Regions from separate parts of the Homo sapiens genome. Here regions 2 and 3 are each reported to be linked to region 1. The links are microRNA targets in miRTarBase. Many come from high-throughput screens and were not tested one by one. Region 1 holds a microRNA gene; each other region holds the end of a gene's coding sequence.
Evidence for each region. Region 1 holds the annotated microRNA hsa-miR-149-3p (AGGGAGGGACGGGGGCUGUGC, at 3,067-3,087, opposite strand). A microRNA usually pairs through its seed, bases 2 to 8, with sites in the 3' UTR of a target mRNA and lowers its output. Matches are read on the target gene's strand: a 7mer-m8 pairs with bases 2 to 8, a 7mer-A1 pairs with bases 2 to 7 and ends in A, and an 8mer does both.

Region 2: the mRNA of SSBP2 is a reported target of hsa-miR-149-3p. Seed matches in the 3' UTR shown: 7mer-m8 at 1,127-1,133 and 8mer at 4,715-4,722.
Region 3: miRTarBase lists C11orf54 as a target of hsa-miR-149-3p. Seed matches in the 3' UTR shown: 7mer-A1 at 3,164-3,170.

The regions. Positions count from the first base shown.
Region 1 is chr2:240,453,967-240,459,142 of GRCh38, reverse strand. It overlaps MIR149 (microRNA 149), which reads right to left and starts at 3,142; the gene lies at 3,054-3,142. GPC1 (glypican 1) reads right to left here. Exons shown (of 9, transcript NM_002081.3): 2 at 1-113. GPC1-AS1 (GPC1 antisense RNA 1) reads left to right here and starts at 2,443. Exons shown (of 3, transcript NR_161169.1): 1 at 2,443-2,546. RefSeq lists enhancers at 1-587, 588-1,239, 3,192-3,842.
Region 2 is chr5:81,416,198-81,421,197 of GRCh38, reverse strand. SSBP2 (single stranded DNA binding protein 2) reads left to right here. Exons shown (of 17, transcript NM_001256732.3): 17 at 665-5,000. The coding sequence ends at 694. Among named protein-coding and RNA genes, the nearest start is that of ACOT12, 25 kb to the right of the region's middle.
Region 3 is chr11:93,760,905-93,765,904 of GRCh38, forward strand. C11orf54 (chromosome 11 open reading frame 54) reads left to right here. Exons shown (of 9, transcript NM_001286069.2): 9 at 611-3,845. The coding sequence ends at 784. Among named protein-coding and RNA genes, the nearest start is that of MED17, 21 kb to the right of the region's middle.

The sequences.
Region 1 (5,176 bases):
GCTGCTGTCCCGGAGCGCGGTCTCCAGCTCGGCATGGCTGCGGTTGGCCAGGTTCTCCTCCATCTCGCTGGTGCAGCAGGTGTAGCCCTGGGGACAGATCCGCAGGTGCTCACCTGTGGGGAAAGGCCAGTGTGAGGGAGAGGGGCTGGGACAGCACTGGGAGCCAGGAGGGCACCCTCAGGCTCTCCTGGGCAGGATGGCAGACCCAGGGTGGAGCACAGCTCAGGGGTGGGCCAGCCTGGGGGGTGCCCTGGGTGAAGGCAGAAGTGGTCGGGGTGTGGAGGGAGGAAAAGGCCTGGCTTCGGTCCCGTAGCTTCCCACACGTGACACAAGAGCACGGCTGCCTCTACAGGGCAGGAGGCCCCTTGGGCAAGTCCTGCCCCCCAGCCTGCTGTCCCAGCAGCTGCAAGCAAAGAACTGGCCTCAGGTTCCTGTGTGCAAGTGTGGAGAAGGCTCCCAGGCCCGAAAGGCACCCCTTGCCTGGGCCCATGTCTGAGGATGGGGAAGGAGGAAGGAATCCAATCCCCCTCTCTTCCCACACCAGCCCTGGGGGGCACCAAGCTCCCACTGCAAGGACGGCAGATCCCACCAACAGTGGGCTGGTCAGAGGCAGTGGCCCTGCAGGACCCCAGGCACGAGTCTGGTATGGGGGCAGGTGTGCTCTGGTGCAGCTGGCAGGCCCCATGAAAGGGTCATTGGACCATGCCCCAAGCCCTGCAGGGTGCACCCTGTGCCTCCTGGTGTCCTTGTGGAGTCCCCTCCTCTGCAGCCTGCCATGAGCTACTCTGCTCCAGCGTCCGAGGCAGTGACAGCGGCACTGCCATCAGAGACAGCTTCACCTCCTTGTGGGGAGTGGGGACAGGACAGGCTTTGAGTCAGCTCTCAGCCCTGCTGTGCACACCTCAGGGCCCACCTGGAATGGGTGTGTGGCATCAGGAAAAACTGCATTTTTTAAAGGGTGTGCATCGCACTGTGATGAAGGCTGCCGCAATCCTCATTTTATTAACCAGAAAACCGGGGCTTACAGGGATGAGGTCTCGTCCCAGCTATACAGTGAGGGGGCAAGTGGTTCCGGCTGCCTAAGCTCAGGACTCCACACTGACGGGGCCACACTGTTCCTTCTGGGCCTCGTCCCCCGCCTCTAAGGCCCTCCTGGTGCTGGCCTAGGTCAGGCACAGTGGAGAGGTGGAAGCAGGAGCCTGGCTTGGTCAGAGGGGTGGGGTCAAGGGGGGGCGTTGTCAGCAGGAATTCCAGCAACTTTCCTCAGGACTGCCGCCTCAGGGGCCTGTCTCATCCTGTTCTGGGACCCTGGGCCAGGGTGGCTGGAATGCAGCAGGTCCTGCATTCTTTTACGCCCTCCTGAGGGTCAGCAGGAAGTGAAGGCCAGGCCAGGGAGGAGAGGCAGGAGAGGGAGCCAGGACCGGGACCGAGGGCGGGGTCAGCCCGGGCAGAGGCACCTGGCTCGAGGCTGTCCTGGGGGAGCTGGCAGCAGCTCCAGCCCTGCCTGGAGGTGGGAGCAGGGATCTGTAGCCCCACTGCAGGCAGGGCCTGGAGCAGCGCAGGCAGTGCCCTACCCGCTTACTGCAAGAGAAGTCACCCCTCAGGCCTGGGGTCCAGGAAGCCCTTACCCACTAGAGGCCATCTGGGGTGGGGACCCAGGACTAGGTAACTACCCAGAGGTTGAATGCCTGGGTCAGACTGAGTTTGCTGATCTTCCGCACCCTCTAAGTACACACACTCAGGGAGGAGCCCGAGACAAGAGAAGGGAACAGAGAACCCGAATCCGGGCTTGGGCGGCTGCCGCTTGGCCCCTGTAGCCTCTGTGCCTGCTGACATGACAGCAAGGAGACAGGTTGTCAGAGGGGCCTGGGAGAGCGAGGGAGGGCCGAGGTAGGGGTTCTTATCCTGGAGCGCTCCCTCCTTGCCCTCTTTTCCTGTCTGAGTTCTGGAATGTACTGATGCAGGGGGCTCTGGCTTGAGCTAGAGGGGGAGGGAGTCCTCCGCAGGGGCTGCAGGTCCAGGGATTCCCCAGGGCCTGGACTTACATGTGCCCATGCTGCAGACAGAGCGGGAATGGCAAGTGCACCTGCGCCCCCCGCCCCTCCTTACCTCCAGATGCCTGCTGGAGGGGGAGTTGGGGGTCCAACAGAGTCTGGGGCCAGGAGGGCCTTGTGGGAGCCAGCTGGGGTGAGGACAGAGCCCGGCTCTGAGAGCCCTGGGGCCTAGTAGAGAAGGGGTGCTCCTTCCCCACTCCTCACATGGGTGGGAAGGCGCCCTCAGGCAAGAAGACTGGGACACAGGTACACTCGCCAGGGACCATCCTTCACTCTGCAGCCTTTATTCACTGATGGGATTCTGCCCCAGTCCCACCCCCGTGGGGGCAGGATTTAGAGCAGGAACCGCCCCTCCGGGTCCTTTCCTGGGGCCTGTGCCAGGCTGAGCAGACTCAGGAGGCGTCTCTCCGAGGGTGTGGGCTGTGATGGGGCCCTGTGCACCCATCCAGGCTGCCCAGACCAGGAGAGCACAGGTCAGCCGGACACATGATGGTAATGGGCTGGGCAGTGGGAGGGAAACGTGCCTGGGGGAGGGGGTGGCAGGTGCCAGCTGAGCTTCCCGGTGACACACCCTGGGCTCAGCTGAGATGGGCTCAGCTGTGACGGGGCACCCAGGCCAGGCTGGCTGGGCCACAGGAACCGAGTGAGCTGGTCCAAGACTCAGGACTAGGGCTCAAGCACTCCTAGGGAGGAGGGTGGGTGGCGTCCCCCGCCGGCTCCTCCTGTGCCCCTCCCTCGCGAGGTCCCGGCGGACCCACTCCCCAGCCCCCACCACGCAGACGGGAGAGGCTGACGAGAGGCATGGAGAGGTGAGGCCCGAAACACCCGTAAGATATGGGAGCTCCCCCCACCTGCAGGTTCTGAGGGGCTCCTCGGCGCCGTCAGCCACCTCTCACACCCCCTCACGGCCGCGCACCGGCCCCCGCGCCTCAGCCTCCCCCGCCGACCCCTCAGCCCCGCCCGGCCAACTCGCCCAGCCGGCCCGGCGACCTGCGTTGTTCCAGCTGCCCCAGCACAGCCCCCGTCCCTCCCTCCCTCCTCGGACAAGCACGGGAGTGAAGACACGGAGCCAGAGCTCGGGCGCCGGCCTGGGAGCCCCCGGCAGGCTGGACGCAAGGCGGGCGAAGGCCTGGGAGCCTCGGGCAGGCTGGATCGAGGCGGCCCCCTGAGGCCCGCTGCAGGCTGGACGCACGGCAGTCAAAGGCAGGAGGCCTCCCGCTGGCTTCCTTCTGCGGAGCTCCGGCCCGGCGCAGGCCGGGGCCACAGGTTGTGGTCCTGGACATGAGATGGCAGAGGCCGGCTCTGCAGAGTCCCCCTGCAGGGCGGCAAAGCAAGCCCCCTCCTGGAAGAATGCCAGGGGCTGGGGCCTTTCTGAATGGAGAGCAATGTGCCCAAGACCAGCTGTCATCTTAAATCTCCCCACCCAGGGGCCTCCCCACCCCCAGGGGCCTCCCCACCACTTCTCTCAGCTCAACACCTGGGGATAGAGAGGCCTCAGGCCAGGAGGGAACCCTCCCCATGTCCCTCTCCCTCTCCTTCCTGGCCTTTCTCCTCCTCCAACCCAGAGGGAGGCATTTTCCAACCTAGGGGGTGAGTCCCGGCAGCCCATCCCCTTCCCCCCGTGCAGGGAGGCATCTGGGCCCTTCCGGCCCACCCCTCCCTCTGGCCCTGGGGCTGCTCAGGTCAAGGTCACCGGGCCTGCTCCCCGCTGGGCCAGGGACTGGACCCTCTCTTCCCTGATCCCTGGGCTGAAGTTGCTGTAGCCGACCCATCCTTCCACAGCGCTCCCCTCCCTCAGTCACTGGGACACTTCCCTTCCCCAGTGCTCTGAGGATTTTTTTGGGGGGGAAGGGGATTATTTGTTTAATGGCAGATTCATCCCCCACCTCAAACCCAGAGTCTCCAGTTCCCAGGCTCCTGCTCCTCAGGTTAAAGCACAGAGCTCTTGCTCCCTGGCTCGTAGGCAGCTGCTGTCTCGTTCCATCTTCCCCCTCCCGATCCTGACGGTTCTGGACCACCCCACTCTGCTGCTCCTCACTAAGCCCCCACCAGCCTTAACTTTGGATACCTTTTAGGTCATGCATTCTCGTCCCCTGCTGACATGTCCCCACCCCGCAGTTTCCTCTTGGTCATCAGCACCTTCACCCCAAAGCTTTAGGCGAGACTCCCATCCTGACAGTGGCCCCCATCCCCAATGATGGACCCAGACCTCATTTGTCCAGACCCAGCCTGGCAGCTGCCCGTGACCAGTGGCTCTGGAGCCCTCCCAAGGAGAATGCAGAGAGATGATGGCGCCACGCCACGCCCATCCCTCCAGAAGCTTCCACGGCTCACACAGGAGGTGCAGACTGTAAAGCCGGCTTTATCCACCTTTACAGCCTCGTCCTAGACACTCAGTGTCAACAGACTCGAATGCCTAAGGTACCGGAATTTGGCGTGGACAGTCAGCCTGCATTGCCTCCCACGGTGCTGGAGTAGGGCTGTGTGCAGAGCTCCAGGCACCGCAGCCCCCCAACACGCAAGGGAAGAGCCTAGGCCTCCCCGCTCCTGCCCTCTACTCAGCTCTGCACCCGGCAACGGGGCCTTCCTGGCTGGCCGATGGCTGCGAAGGCTTTCCCCAAGCCCGAACCCTCTTCTCGAAGCCTGCCCCAGCCCCTGGCCCATCTGCTCTCGGACCCCAACCAGCTCCGGTGGCTGTGGCATCCTCCGGCACGTCCAGCAGCCTCCTGGGGTGAGGGTGCACTGGACAAACGACCCAGGGGGTTTCCTGGGGACCACCCACTGCCCAGGCTGCAGAGGATCTTTTCCTCACTTTTGCCCCATCCTCTAAGAAGCCTGCGCCCCTGGCCAGTCCCTGTCCGCCTGGGCTCCTGACGTCTGAGCCAGAGGCAGCCTTGGCCCCACCTGCGAGGTGGACCGGCCACGGCATCTCAGCTCCTCGTCAACGGCATCCACGGCCCCCAGACTCACCCCATCGTGCTTCCCTCCCCTCCCCACACCCCTGCCGTCTGCCCGAAGCCCCCCCGCCACCATTTCACCCAAATGACAGCGTCGCCAAGGAGCCCCTCCGCCGCCGCAGAACCTCCGCCGCGCACTGCGACCCGAAACCGAGGGGCGTCGTA
Region 2 (5,000 bases), not on the chromosome of region 1:
AAGATTAGAGTCACAGATTATGGGCAAGATGCTTAAATGCTGAAGTATAAATTAGACTCTTAAGTATTTTAAATGCTTTAATGAGAGCTTCCCAGGGCCAGCTTGGAGTTGTTTCTGTTTTGTTTCCCTACAGTATTAACCTAACACTTGCTGAGCACTTTCTGTGTATTCAATAAATACATGGTTTAAGGATTTTATATCTCATCTTCCCCAAGCCCCTTTACAGATAGGGAAACTGAAGTCAAGACAGGTTAGGTAGCCTCCTCAGTTTACAAGCTAGTAGACAGCAAAGACTAGACCTCATACTTACTTAGTTATGATCCAGCCTTGGACTAAATTTACCAAAGGTTTTTACAAGTGCCTGCAAAACATAAATCTGTCTGGATGGAGGGAGGCAGAGGGACTGGGTAATGATGAGCCTCTGGGTGCAGGGAGAGGATAGGACTTGATGCTTTCCAGGGGAAATATTTAAAATTTCAGTACTAAGTTAAGTCTGTATCATTTTACTTTTTTTATAGTTTCTTATTTTATGTTGTATGAGATGAAAAGCTTGCACATAAAAGATGATAAGAAATTAGAATTCATCGTTTCTGTTGTACCAAGAAGAACCTTAGTGATCTCTAAAAGAATTGTTGTTAAAATATGGATTCTTCTTTCCTTCTAGTACTCCCCTAGCATGACAATGAGCGTGTGATCCATTACCAAGTCTCCTCATGAAAACCACAGTGAGTCAGCCCTTCACAGAACTACTACGGAAGAAAATTATTCATCACAGTGTACAGTTAAACAAAGGAATCTCAGTCACACCAAACCAACCTTTTTATTTCCTGCTCTCTCCCCTCTTTTGTGAAGAAAGCGGGTCCAAATGTGATTCAAACAACTGTACGGAGTGGCATATTAGAATTGCCCTAAACTGAACTGCAAATAATTATGTGTGTATGTATATGTGTGGGAAAGAGAATGTACTGTATATGTGTATGTTATACAGACATATACACATACATACATTGACCCACAGGACATTGTAAAATATTATCACATGACATCTTAAGTAGAAATAAGTAGGGACTTTTATTCCATCCTTTTTTTCACGTTTACATTTTAATTATTACAAGTTGCTCCTGCCCCCTCCCTGAACTATTTTGTGCTGTGTATATCACTGCTTTATATAAGTTATTTTTTAAGGTGAACTCAGATGTTATGGTTTTGTAAATGTCTGCAATCATGGATAGGAATAAAATCGCTTATTTGAGAGCTTTCATTAAATTGCGTCTGATGCAAGTTATCCTGTGAATCACAAAGTGTACTGTCTCAAAAAATAGAAGAAAATGTGTCTTCGTCTTTATGTTGAATCAAACAATTTCTCAGTTACCTTCAGTGAAAAGTATTTTTTTAATTTTTATTTGAGAAAAACACTTCAAATCAGTAAAAGCTTAACTGGGGCCTCACACAGTATATTTCTGCAATAACTGCTTTAAACGGAGTTCTTGATTTGTTTGTCTTAGATGATACAGAAATCATTAAATAGCCCAAATCATTTAGACCATAGCAATAAAGTGACCGGGGTTGTCATATATTTAGCAACATCTTTTCTCTTTAACATGATGAAGCCCAAAAGTGATAACAAAAGCATTTGCTTGAATTTGTCACTTCTCACCAGGAGTACTAGAGGTAAATTTTTAATAACATACTAATGTGAAATGGTATCTGGTTTTTATTCAGACTTTTTGTGAGCATATTCTTATAGACACTAGAAATAAATACATAGAAGGAGACTTTGAGCACAAGGGAGAAGAGAGTTATTAGCACTCCTGAGGCCTCTGGAATGCTGCTTTTCTATCCAGGTATCTTGCTTGCTACCAGCAGAATTGACTGGTATTGGTTCTCACTGGCCAGGGAGCCTCTGCTCTGTTCCTGGAATATAAGGCTTTTATTCAGGAGCAAATCATTGATAGTAACTTTGCTTTATCTAGCCATTGACTTCAGCAGGCTAAAACTACATTGTGTAACTGACTGTTCAAAAAAGAATAAGTAAATTTTTTTTAATCTAATTCCCTTATGGAAAGCACCTTGCTCTATGGCACTTTCCAGATCTTTTGGGATTTTGTGCTTAATTATACATACATACACCAAAATCACAATAGAAAGATATGAAGACTTTAATTTTAGACTCTGAAAGATAACTGGGTGATCCTTTGTGTTAAAATTGTGATACAAACAACCATTGATAAATACCAACTATGAATCCAAACTCTAGAGACTTTGAAAAGCATTGTTTAATTGCAGGTAAGAGGAATCTTCTCTTTCCTTTAGGCTTATAGTCTCTAAAGTGAAAATTTGGCAGGATATAGTCATGCAGCTCATAATGACATTCCAATCAACCACAGACTGCATATACAGCAGTGGTCCTATAAGATTATAATACCATATTTTTAGCATATCTTTTCTATGCTTAGATACACAAATACCATTGTATTACAGTTGCCTTTGGTATTCAGTACAGTAACATGCTGTACAGGTTTGTAGCCTAGGAGCAATAGTTTATATTATATAGCCTAGGTGTGTAGGAGCCTATACCATCTAGGTTTGTGTAAGTACACTCTATGATGTTCAGACAAGGACAATATTGCCTGACAATGCATTTCTCAGAATGTATACTTATCATTAAGTAACATATGACTGTATGTACTAGTTCCTGATGACTTACTTCTCTCAAATTCATAATGATTTAGTCCTTGTAAAAATAAAGATTTTGCCTGTGCCTAAACAGGGATACTAGGCAGAACTGTTGAGAAAAAAAAGCTGAATTAAATTTATGTTGCAGATTTAAACTATCATAAAATGAGCCTCAGTTAATCACACACAGTATTCAGGTGCCTAGGAGTGCACACCGGAGAACAGCCTCATGCTGTCAAGCTGCAGAAACCTTTCATGCAAATTCAGATGAAAAGGTCTTTACCTCAAGCCAGGGTAACCTGAATGAAGGTGATAGTTTGTCCAGACACCTGACTTTACCAAGAAGAATTTTGACTTTCATATTTTATGACAATCATATAAAAATTGACAGTCCTTTGATTATTAAGCTTAATCTTATAATGCTAGAATTTTCAAATATTTTGTTGACTCTTCTCCATTGTTACCGATCTTGAAATTCTTTTCTTCGCCTTCTGAGAAGGTATTATTTCTTATCACAAAGAATGATGAATATGATTTTATCTACCCTTATTTTGGGGGTAATACGAGAATATGAATTGCATCATGATCCCCATTATTTCTAACCTAAAAGTAAAATTCGTTTTTTTTTTCAAGGCAGAGCAGTCAATTGATTATAAGTATTTATTTCTTTTTTCTTCTTGGAGCCCAGATTAAAAAGAGTTATTTTAGATTTAAAAATTTCCTGAAATAGTTGAAAAATTATTTTTGAGGAGAAAATTGTATCCAAGAAACCCAGAATGTAAGGATACTTGATTTTTATATCCAGATAATTCTTTCATGCACTGAATGGAAGACAGTATATCTGTATATTAATTTTTGTTTAGATTTTGAATCATTTAACCCTTATCCTTTTTTCTTGTAATAAGACTATTTAATGTTTTTCTCTTGTGTTTTCCATCTTTATCAATGCATTCGTGTTGGTCTTGATGTATACTACCTGTTCCTAGTGTTATTTTTACACGTCATCTCACAGTAATAATATCAGCAATTCTTGCTGCATTGAACATATTAAATACACATGTAAAATGAAAAAGTAAGCAGTAGGTAAAATCTTGTTACTCTGCTTTGCATTCTGCCTAACTCACTGCATTTGAAAATACATGTCAAATTCTTTCTGAGGGTATGTATGATTCTTAACTACGTGTCTTACAGCAAAGTTGCCCATGGGAACAAAGGCTGTAGGGTGTCATTGATCTTGTAATACAACACATATTTGATGGGTGAATCTTATTAGCACTCCTTTGAAAATGTTCCAGTATGGAGTCAGTTGCTGATAAAGAGGAAGTTCACAGCTAGGAATCCGAAGTTAAGATTTCTCAATTGCCGCCTGGGCACTCATGCCTGTAATCCCAGCACTTGGGAGGCCAAGGTGGGCAGATCACCTGAGGTCGGGAGTTCAAGACCAGCCTGGCCAACCTGGTGAAACCCCCCCATCTCTACTAAAAATACAAAAATTAGCCAGGTATGGTGGTGGCTGCCTGTAATCCCAGCTACTCAAGAGGCTGAGGCGGGAGAATCACTTGAACCCAGGAGGCGGAGGTTGCAGTGAGCCGAGATTGTGCCACTGCACTCCAGCCTGGGTGACAGAGCAAGACTCCATCTCAAAAATAGAAAAGATTTCTCAATTGCCAAAAAGATTAACAAGTAAATCAATTCTGCTCCCCCAGCCATGAAAAGTGCCCAAAACAGCCCTTTCCCTCCAGAATAAAATAAAACTTCCATTTCTATTTTTATGATTCTCTAAGATATCTGAACTCCATTGCATTTCATAGGGTTATTCAGTTAGCACTTCTGTGGTTTAAAAGACAACAAATGAAAATAAGTAAGTTCAGTTTGGGGCATGAAGAAGTCCCACATCTGTCTATATCTTTTCTTCATCATATTGTCCCTAGGAATGTATAGCAAAGCATTCAGAACTGCTCCTTTGGCTGGGGAAGTTTTCCACCGTCCTTAATACTATGAAGTCTTGATTACTTCTTCCGTGGCTTTATCCTTGCCTCCCTCCCAATCCCTGCATCTTCCAGGAGAAATAAAATACCAACTGAACACTGTTACCTTCTCAGCCCTTACCATTTTCATCTGCATATAGTGTATAGTACTAAGAGTAGTTTTCCCAGGAGAAATAATTGCAATTTTCATTTCTTGATTATCACTGCTAATTCGAAGGAGTGCCACAAATCATAGCCACTTGATTTTGATTTTGGAATGCATTTTAGTGTTTTGACACTGGTTTTCCTTTTTTTTAAATTTTTTTTTCTTTTTTTTTTTTGAGACAGTCTTGCTCT
Region 3 (5,000 bases), not on the chromosome of region 1:
CGCCTCAGCCTCCCAAAGTGGTGGGATTACAGGCATGAGCTACTCCGCCTACCCTGGTCATATCTTGATCCAGTGATTACATGCCTAGGATATTATACTTAAATATATGCATAATTGTGTAAAATTACTAGTTAAAAGGTTATTATTACAGTATTGTTGTAGTAGCAAAAGAATTAGAAATAATGCAAGTGTCAGTTGAGAAGTTACATACGCAATAGAATACCATGCAGGTATAAAAGAATGAGGAAGCTCTTTTATGATTTCATATACAAAGATCTCAAAACTATATTGTTACATGAAAAAAAGTTACATGCAGAAAAGTGTGTACAAAATACTACATTTGAGTAAAAATAAAAGTAAGTATTTATGGAAGGATATACAAGAAAATGCTTACACTGGTTACCTGCTAGGAAGGGGAGTGAGTGGTGAGGGCAAGAGAGAAGAAGATACATTTTACTGAATACATCGTTTTGCCCCCTTTGAATTTAGAACATGTGAATGTATTACCTATTTAAAAAATAAAAACTATTGCAACGTAAAAAGTTATCCCTCCCCCTTAAACTCTAATCAATAATTTGAGTACTAACATATTGTTTGTCTGTTATCTTAGGGGTTTGATTTGCGACTGGAGCACACTCATTTTTTTAGTCGTCATGGAGAAGGTGGACACTACCATTATGACACTACTCCAGATATAGTGGAATATCTTGGATACTTCTTACCTGCAGAGTTTCTCTATCGCATTGATCAACCAAAAGAGACGCATTCAATTGGGCGAGATTAAATCAGCTGATACTTATTTAGAAAAAGAAATAATTAAGGTTAATTAATTGATTGACTTATTAATTAATACTGATATAAAACCAATAGAAATGATCCCACAGGCCAGGCACAATGGCTCATGCCTATAATCCCAGCACTTTGGGAGGCTGAGGCAGGAAGCACACTGGAGCCCAGGAGTTTGAGACCAGCTTGGGCAACATAGCAAGACCCTGTCTATTTTTTTAAAAAAGTAAAAAATAGAAATTATCTCACTACTTAAATCCCATTTTTTTCACTTCATATGAAAGAACATATTGATAGTATATTCTATATTATTTCATAGATCTGTCTGAAAGAGATTGGGAACAAAAATATCTAATTGAGATATTCTTTAATTTTTTACATAGCAGCTTTATTTTTTTTATTCTGTAGTATCAGCGAAATCAGTCATGTTTATACCTTGAATATAAATATCAGGAATCATGCAATTATTTCTACTATGTATTTAGTAGTATCTTATATTTGTATAACATTATTACATTTTGCAAATTAGTATCACAACTGCTAAGTAGATGTTTCTGAGTATTAGAAAAATCAGTGTTATTACCTGCAGGATATTAAAAAACATTTGAAAAAGAGAAAAAGAAAAATCAGTGTTTAGAAATGTTGATAGTTATTGAATCTTTGAATTGAATTTTAAAAATCCATTCTAGTAATCAGAGTATACTTTTTTTATAGAACAAGGTGGCAGGTGGGGAGCCCTTTACCCTTCTGGTGAAGTTAAACCATAGAAGTTTACAATTTGCCTTTCACAAACATTAGCAGTCCGGGCATGGTGGCTGAAGCCTGTGATCCCAGCATGTTGGGAGGCCGAGTGGGAGGATTGCCTGAGCCTAGGAGTTTAAACCAGCCTGGGCACCATGGTGAGACCCCATCTCTATTATTTAAAATGTTTCTTAAATAAAAAAAACACAAACATTAGCAACTAGTTGGCTAGCCATAATTCCTCCCTTGTTTCGATTGCCAGTTAGAAGCAATTTTTATTTCACTGGTTATTTGCAAGAGAAGGGGTAAAAAAACAGCATCAGAGTGCAACACTGAAGTGAGCTTACTTTAATTTGTAAGTGAAGCTGTTGCTGAACATGACCACTATCGTTGCTGAAATATAAAATTATACTCACTGATTGTAATGGTTGAAATTTTCCTGAATAATCATTAGCCAAAGATCAACTCTCTAATGGTGCTAATGGCAATCTAGCTAATGTGCAAATTTAGGAAGTCTTCAGTACTAAGTACATAATTTTCAAATAATATTTTTTAATTGTCTACTTTGGATGTTAGCTATGTCTTGTGAGTATAAATTCCAATTTTAAGCACTATTTTGATGCAAAAAAATGAATAAAAAATTTAATTTATGATATGTTTGTAATATCTTACCTCCAGACAAAATAATATTAATAGTCTATCATTTAACAAATATGTATTGAACACCTACCCTTCTCTCTGGAGTGTACACTTCATGTGGGCAAGGGCCTTGTTCACGACTGTAGCACTAGTGCCTTTAACTGCTAGCAAAGTAGCCACTCGGATGATTATACCAAACACTTTACTAAAGCTGGGGATCTGTCTAGTGGGGAAGACAAACAATAAATATATAATATGTCAGGTGGTATTAAATGCTATGAAAAGAAAGGAGTAGATGGACTGTAAAGGAGGATGCTATTTTTTTGTGGCCATCCCGCACTGAGACAGGATGCATTCCACACTCAAAATTTGGTTCACATGTCCAGACTGATAGCCAAGTTCAGTGGCTCACGCCTGTAATCCTAGTACTTAGGGAGACCAAGGCAGGAGGATCACTTGAGGCCAGGAGTTCAAGGCCAGCCTGGGCAACAGAGAGAGACCCCCATCTCTGCAAAAAAAGAAAAAAAATTTTTTAATTATCTGGGCATGGTTGTGCACACCTGTTGTCCCAGCTGCTCAGGAGGCTGAGGCACGAGAATCACTTGAGCCCAGAAGTTGGAGGCTACAGTGAGCTATGATTGTTTCATTGCACTGTAGCCTGGGCAACACAGTGAGACCCTGTCTCAAAAAGAAAAAAAAAATGACTGATGAAGCCACACACACACCAACAGAGTATGAAAGGGTTGTTACTCACATAATGAAGCTTTCTGGGGAAAGCAGGGCAGCTCCTAAGCAGGATTTGACAACAGGGAAGGAGACTGACTTGGAGTTTTTTGGTGGTTAGGGAGTAGGGCCAGAGTGATGTTTCTTGCATGTGGTTTGAATTTCCCACTGGTATCAAAGAAGGAAACACCCAGGCTTGCTTGCTTTATTTTTTTAAAGAGATGGTGTCTCACTATGTTGCCCAGGCTGGGCTCAAGTCATCTTCCTGCCTCGGCCTCCCAAAGTGCTGGGATTACAGGCATGGGCCACCATGTCTGGCGAGCACCCAGGCTTTCTTAGCTTGCCAGAGGTGTAGGGCATAAGGGGACGAGGGGTGGGATAAGGCTTAAAAGCCACCAGCAGTCAAACATAAATTAAGTCAGATTCTTAATTACAGATTTCAGATCTGATTTCAGATCAGAGCTTATTTCAGGTCAGATTCCAGGTGTAGAGATCATCTGAAGCAGTCCTGGGCCTCTTCACACTACAGATACCAACACTGCCTTTACTCTTCCATTAGTGTCCTCCAAAATGGGGTGCATGGACAGCAGGTACACATGACCTTCCAAGGGGTGTGGGAATATTAGAACATCTATTTATATATTTTATTTCGTCCTTTTAAGTTTCTGTGGTTTTGTGTACATTTCTTACGTTAGGGATTTCAGTTCAAAATTGTATTGCTGATAGACACAATTCAAAAAGCTTGGAGACCAGGTACATTCACACCATCTAATAGAGATGGGGGAAAAGATCAAAATGCTTTTCTTTTTAAATTTTTTCTTAGTTTTCTTTCTTTATAGAGACAGAGTTTCGCCGTGTTGGCCAGGCTGTTCTCGAACTCCTGGCCTCAAGTGATCTGCCCGTCTCAGCCTCTCAAATTGCTGGGATTACAGGCATGAGGCACTGCACCTCACCCAAAGTGCTCTTCTTACTCTTACATTCACTCAGTATAACACAGAAAGCTTCTGTGACCAGATGCATGGGGGTTTTTCCCACACACCAAGCAATTCTCCAGCAGACATCAGCTGGGGGTCCTATAATTTAATTCAATTCTAACACTATTTACTTGGAGATAGCGTCAGATCCCACAGTTTAATGGTTCAATCCTCCAAGACTGCCTCCCACTTCCGATGCCAATCACAAGCTTCAGGTTGTGACCTGTACTTTTGACCAACCCACTGTAAATCGGGGTCTCTATGCCTACCTCTTCAGGTTTGATTAATTTGCTTAGAGCAGATCACTGAACCCAGGGAAACACTTTACTTATATTTTCCAGTTTATTAATAAAGGATATAATAAAGTATACAGATGAACAGCCAGATGGAAGAGATGCATATGGAAAGGCCAGCAGAAGTCCAGAGCTTCCACACCGTTTCTGGGTGCCCCACCTTCTAGGCATGTCCACCTGTTCAGCAATTTGGAAGCTATCCAAACCCTTTTCTTTTGGACTTTGGCTTTGTTTTTGTTTTTGAGACAGGTTCTCACTCTGTCACCCAGGCTGGAGTGCAGTGGCATGATCTCTGCTCACTGAAACCTCTGCCTCCCAGGCTCACGCAATCCTCCCCTCTCCGCCTCCTGAGTAACTGGGACTAACAGGTGTGCGCCATGACGCCCAGCCAATTTTTGTATTTTTCGTAGAGACGGGGTCTCATCATGTTACCCGGGCTTGTCTTGAACTCCTGGGCTCAAGTGATCCACCCGCCTCTGCCTTTCTTTTGGGATTTTATAGAGGCTTCCTTATGTAGGCAGAATTGATTAAATTATTGGTCACTGGTGATAAGTTCAACCTTCAGCCTTTCCTCTCCTTCAAGGTTGGTGTTGGGGCTGAAAGCCGGAATTCTTTAATCACGTGGTTAGTTCCTGGGCAAGGAGCCCCTATCTTGAAGCTATCCAGGAGCTTCTGGCATGCAGAAACCCACTTATCACTGTCATTTCATTAGCATACAAAAAACCATTTATCACTTTGGAGATTCCCAGGGTTTTAGGAGCTGTGTGCCAGAATACTGGGACTAAGACTATCTATACATACTGCATATCTTATTATACATCACAGTGTCATACCATCTTTCCAA